Linked DNA regions of Homo sapiens: region 2 is linked to region 1. Evidence: fine-mapped expression QTL. Tissue or cell type: cerebellum. Region 1 holds a variant in brackets; the other region holds the start of a gene. All regions are shown on one strand. Distances are between the middles of the regions.

Region 1 (2,679 bases):
GGCGGTGGGGAGGCAGCAGCAGCAGCAAGGCAAGCCCAGCGCCGGCGACCGCTCCTCCCGCGCGCCACTCGCGAGTCTCCGCTGGCGACTCTACCTGGCTCAGCCTCCTCCGCCCCCTCCCCGGCGGCTCGCGAAGCCGGGGCTCTGGCTGTTCTTTCTCTCTTTCCTGTTTTTATAATTTTTTTCCCCAACTCCTTGCCACAGCCACGTACGGCCTAATCAAAGAGATTGAAGGAAGAAAAAAAACCAAAAACATAAAGCGAGGGAAATGCCTAGGCCCCAGAATTTGGCACCACCTAGAAACCCGCACACATTCCGAGCGCTCTCCTCGCTCCCCGCCCCCAGGCCCCTCGCGCAGCTCCTCCTCCACCCCGGCCCCTCCGCCCCCTTCCCCACCGGCCTCCTCCCCGCGCCCGGGACTGGCGCCTGGGTGGCAGGGGTTGGCAGCCCGGAGAGGGCACGGGGTCGCACAAAAAGGGTGCGAGGGTGCGTGAAGAGGGTGGAGGGGCGGGGACCACGCGGGTCGTGGGTGCGGGGGCGGTGGGGGAGTCCCGGGAGCTGAGGGTTCTGCGGCCCCGCCGAAGGTAGTGCTGCGCGTGCCCCGCAGCACGCGAGCGGACGGTGCAAGGGGATGCGGAGGTCGAGGCAGGCAGGCCGGCCAGGGGGCGACTGAAGGTGCAGCCGGCCCCGGGGCGCCCCAGCCACGCACGCGCTGCGGCGCCGGGCTCCCCGCGCCCCCAGCTCTTCTTGCCTAACTTGAAGCAACACCAGAGACACCCCGAGGACCTGGGGTGCAAATGGGGCGTGGGAGAGCCACCAGGAGGGCGCGGGGTGGTCGGACGACGCTGGTGAGGAGGCCGCCCTCCCTCCACAGCCCAGCTCCCTCCGAAACCGCCCCTTCCCTTCGCCTCTCTCCGGAGGAGAGCAGGAAAGGTCGCGGGGCGGCAGAGGACGCCCAGAGGCCCAGGCGCCCCTCGCGGGCGCTGCGCCCCGCAGAGAGCCCGGCTGTGACCGTGACTCCATTCTCATTATCATGAACGCAGGCGGAGGCTCGGCTCTCCGGCTGCCCGCAACTTTTCCAAAGCCTGCGCCTCACTGTGCCCGCCGAGAGCGAGGGAGGGCGACATGGCTCCACTCGCCGCGCGCTCTCGGGCTTGCCTCCTGCCCAGCCGCAGGAAG[G/A]CGCGCTCCAGCGCCCCTGTGTGGACACCCGCACCAGCGGGCTCCGCTCCTCCGCTCCAGGCCCGGCCTGGCTTCTCTTCCCCTCCCGGCCCTCCCGCGTCCTCCCCGGCTCCCTCCTGCACTCTTCTCCGTCCTTCTGGAGTTGCTGGGCACGCGTCTCTCTCGTCTCGTCCCCACGTCCTCCTTGCGCGCCCCTTCCAGCCCTTCCCGGCCGGGAAGGACCTATCACATCCAGAGAGCGAACGTGGGCCGGGAAACCCCAACTCCAGAGGGGGGAACCTGTGAGACCCGCCCCTGCCCATTCCGCCGCCTCCTTCCACATGGAGGTAGGTCGTTGGCTTCATCTCCCAGGACTGCTAAGGCTCCCTGCTCCTTCCGGGTTTCCATGCCTGTTTCCACTTAGGGTTTCAAAATAACAGGCTCGGCCGCCACGCACAAGGCTGACTGCAGGCTCGCCCCCAGCCTTGGCATTGCCCCAAGCCCAGAGAGAGGCCTGCCTGGGCCTGAAACTGCATGCTCCCTCTGTTTCCCTAACTGCGGGGGAGAATACTGGATGCCGGTGAACAAGTCTCCTGGGAAGAGACCTCCCTTCAGTCCCTTCCACCTGCCTCCCTTCCCCAAGCTTTCAATCCAGTGTGTAGTTTTTGGTTTAACCAAAATTTGTACCACGCTCATCTTCTGTTTACTCCACAGTAGTTACCCTTTACTATGAAGAAACATGAGTTTAAAAACACTTTAAAAAAATAGCAAATACAAAACCAAGTAAAACCAGGATTGCAACAGCTAAGCAAAACTTGCTGCATGGGAGAGGCCAGGCAGGTGGGTCTGGGGTGGGGAGAGCTTCAGCTGCTCCATTTGACTTTGAAGACAGAGGCAACAGAGCCATAAAACTAAACTTTAAAAGTCACCACAATTAGATAGATAGAAAACCTTGCTCTCAACCCCCTCCTCTGCCCCAGCTGTGCTTTTGATGGGAGGAAGCTGCCTCTCCTAACATGGACATGAAAGAAAGCTCATGCTATTCACCGCAGCATCGCGATCCTGACATTTCACTAAATATAGATGCAGTTAGGGTCCCACTTATGTAATATACATATGCTATCTATGAAATATGCATGCATATTTTTACACAAACTAAATGTCATACTAATATAGTTTATACAAAATACAATACTTATGCAGAATAGTTTATGTATCATACATGATACTTCATAGATGTGTGCATATTAATCATAGAATACTATTGGGATAAAGCATATGTGCCACTTTTAAAAATTATATTCTCAAAGCATTGTAGGTAACTATAATCTAACCAAAGTTTAAAATCTCAAATTATCTAAGAAAATATGATAAGCGATTTCTGCTTAAAATTATAAAATGAAATCACCATAAAACTCATAAGCAACAGGGGAAAGAGTTGAAATAAAAATTTGTGCTGGGAAGCAAATCTCACAATTAAGCAGAAGAAACGGAGGGCAGGGGAGGAGGGCAGGAAAGAGC
Region 2 (2,679 bases), 270 kb after region 1:
CACACAATTTGTAGCTGCAGGAGTGGCAGAGCACCAGAGTGGATGCAGGCCCAGATGTTCTCTGGGTTAGGTGTTAAGGACTTGTGGGAGTCATCAGGCAGCAGGCATTTGCCCCAGTGTCAGAGGTGTTTAAGCCAGAATTACTCCATCTTGAATAAGGGCTGGGTAAAATGAGGCTGCATTCATAGGAGGTTAGGCATTCTAAGTCACAGGATGAGACAGAAGGTTGGCACAAGATACAGGTCATACAGACCTTGCTGATAAAACAGGTTGCAGTAAAGAAGCTGGCTAAACGCCACCAAAACCAATATGGCAATGGGAGGGACCTCTGGTGGTCCTCACTGCTCATTATGCACTAATTATAATGCATTAGCATGCTAAAAGACACTCCCACCAGCAAGCACCATGACAGTTTACAGACGCCATGACACCATCATGAAATACTCTATATGGTCTAAAAAGGGGAGGAAGCCTCAGTTCCGGGAACTGCCCACCCCTTTCTCTGAAACTCATGAATAATTCAACCCTTGTTTAGCATATAATCAAGAAATAACCAAAAAATGGGTAACCAGTAGCCCTGGAGCTGCTCTGCCTATGGAGTAGCCATCCTTTTACTTCTTTGCTTTCTTAATAAACTTGTTTTCACTTTACTCTATGGGCTTGCCCTGAATTCTTTCTTGCATGAGATCCAAGAACCCTCTCTTAGGGCCTGGATCGGGACCCCTTTCTGATAACACCAGGAGACACCCTGGGTGGATTTCCTGAACCGACCGATAGATGAGCCTTCCACGCGGGAGACCTGGATCCTTATCGTCTTTGTGGCCCCTTCCATCTGCACGTGCGGACGAGGTCCGGGTCGCACTCGGGCGGTCAGCCTGGCACGCACAGCGCCGGCGTGCAGGGGGCCTTGGGTGCCACCGAGTCCGGGAGGAAATCTAGGCCGCCATCCGTCCGGAGACTGGCACCTGTGACCACCACCCAACATGTATTGAACAAGGGCTTGGAGGTCCTTTCTCTAAGGCCGCACCGATAAACGATTACCGACTGTTGACCTCACGGCCCCTTCGCTTCCGGCCGCACCGCCTCGCTGCCCACGCCTGCGCACTCAGGCACCGCAGGTAGGAGGAACGTACCAACTGCGAGGCGGGGGGTGCGCGCGAAGACCCCCGCAGGCTGCGCTTCCGGAAGTAACCCCTGGCGCATCCCGGAATCCAGAGCGCCCACTACGGCCTTTGGCCAGGCCCCCTGGGCGCGTTCCGGGAGCTCAGGCCTGCGGCGCTGGGAGAAGCACGCTGGCCAACAAGTTGGGTGGTGGGCACGCGGCCCAGGGGTCAGGGGCCGCCAGGCGGCGGGCGGCGGGGCTGCGGCTCTTACCTGCCGAGGAGGCGCCGGCTCTGCGGTGCGGAGTTGCGCCGGACTTCCCAGCTTGGCCAGTGGCTCCGCAGGCTGCCGGCTCCACCCCTCAGGTAAGCGGGGACTGGGCCGCCGAGGTTCAGGGAAGGGGGCGGCTGTCGGGGCCCGTGCCGGCCCCGGGGGGCCACCTGCTGGGCCAGCGGTGCCCTCGCGCCGAAACACACTGGGAGAGGCCAGAATCTTCCGGAACAGCCAGCCCTTACCCATCTCTCCCTCTGTGCCGAGAACTGCCCTGAAATACTGTGGTATTAATTAACTCGTTTAACACTAACAATCTCATGAGGCGGGTGCTGTTACTATTCCCGTAATGTAGACGAGGAAACCGAGGCGTGTGCTGGAGCAGGATCACGGCCGTGCTCAGAGACGGGCTCTGGATGCCATGCTCTGACTCCATTGTTAGCCCTAAGCTTCCAGAAAGTAGCAGAGTGCTGCCGTGTCGTTTGTAACAGATCTCACTTTGTGTCATTTTTTTTGCACAGTATGAAACCTAATGATGCATGATTATTATTTAAAACATCTTGCTTAGACTTTATAAGTAGTCAAATTTGCGTGTGGGACAAAACCCCAAAACATGCAATGGCTTGCTCTCCTCTTTTCCTTTCACACGTTCATCTCCTCCTATCCCTTTCTCTCACCACCTTTCAATCTTCTCACAGATGTTGTGGAGGAAGATGAGACTTGAGGGCCCAGCAGGTGCTTAAAATCCCCTGCCTGGTGGGGGTGGAGTAGACACTCTGTCCCCCTGCAGTGCTGGAGTTGAGAGCAGAGGGGCTGGAGAGGGACTGGGCGGAGTGAGAAAGGCCTGGCATAATCATGGAATGCCCAGGGTGGGGTTCTACTTCTCTTGCAGGCACAAGAGAAGTAGAAGAGTGGCCGCTTTCCTTCTGGGCACGCACTTGGGAAAAGGCTTGGTGAGAGCAGCGAGAAGAATAGGTCTAATTTCTTGAGCCAGTGTGCGGAGGTGCTTCCCAGCCCAGGCTAAGCCAGATCACTCAGCCAGCCGCTGGCTGCCTTTACAGATGTACGGCTCCCCGTGAGCAATCAACATGCCTGGCTCTCAGGCATAAGCTGCCTCACTTCCCTTCTGCACAGCACTCCAGGACTTGCCTGCTACCAGACCCATCCTACTTTCTCTGTCAGGAAAAATGAGAGTTCTTCCTGGTCTCTTGAGGCCAATCCCTTCCACCGCCTGTGCCCTGGATCCCTTTCTCCAGGAAGCTTCTCTTCCCTGTGTAGTTAGCCTCCCCGCTCTTCCCAGGTCACCTT

Evidence for each region. PIP is the estimated chance that this variant, and not a neighbour inherited with it, causes the effect.
Region 2: LRRC61 starts here. The variant in region 1 is fine-mapped to the expression of LRRC61 in cerebellum (GTEx, PIP 0.98).

What each region holds. Positions count from the first base shown.
Region 1 is chr7:150,047,950-150,050,628 of GRCh38, forward strand. It overlaps a transcript of ACTR3C not described here. Among named protein-coding and RNA genes, the nearest start is that of ATP6V0E2, 180 kb to the left of the region's middle. RefSeq lists enhancers at 818-1,452, 1,453-2,086. The variant G/A (reference allele first, on the strand shown) is at 1,180.
Region 2 is chr7:150,322,095-150,324,773 of GRCh38, forward strand. LRRC61 (leucine rich repeat containing 61) reads left to right here and starts at 1,261. Exons shown (of 3, transcript NM_001142928.2): 1 at 1,261-1,466. ACTR3C (actin related protein 3C) reads right to left here and starts at 1,451. Exons shown (of 8, transcript NM_001164458.2): 1 at 1,375-1,451. RefSeq lists enhancers at 481-590, 641-700, 2,021-2,090 and a silencer at 1,311-1,630.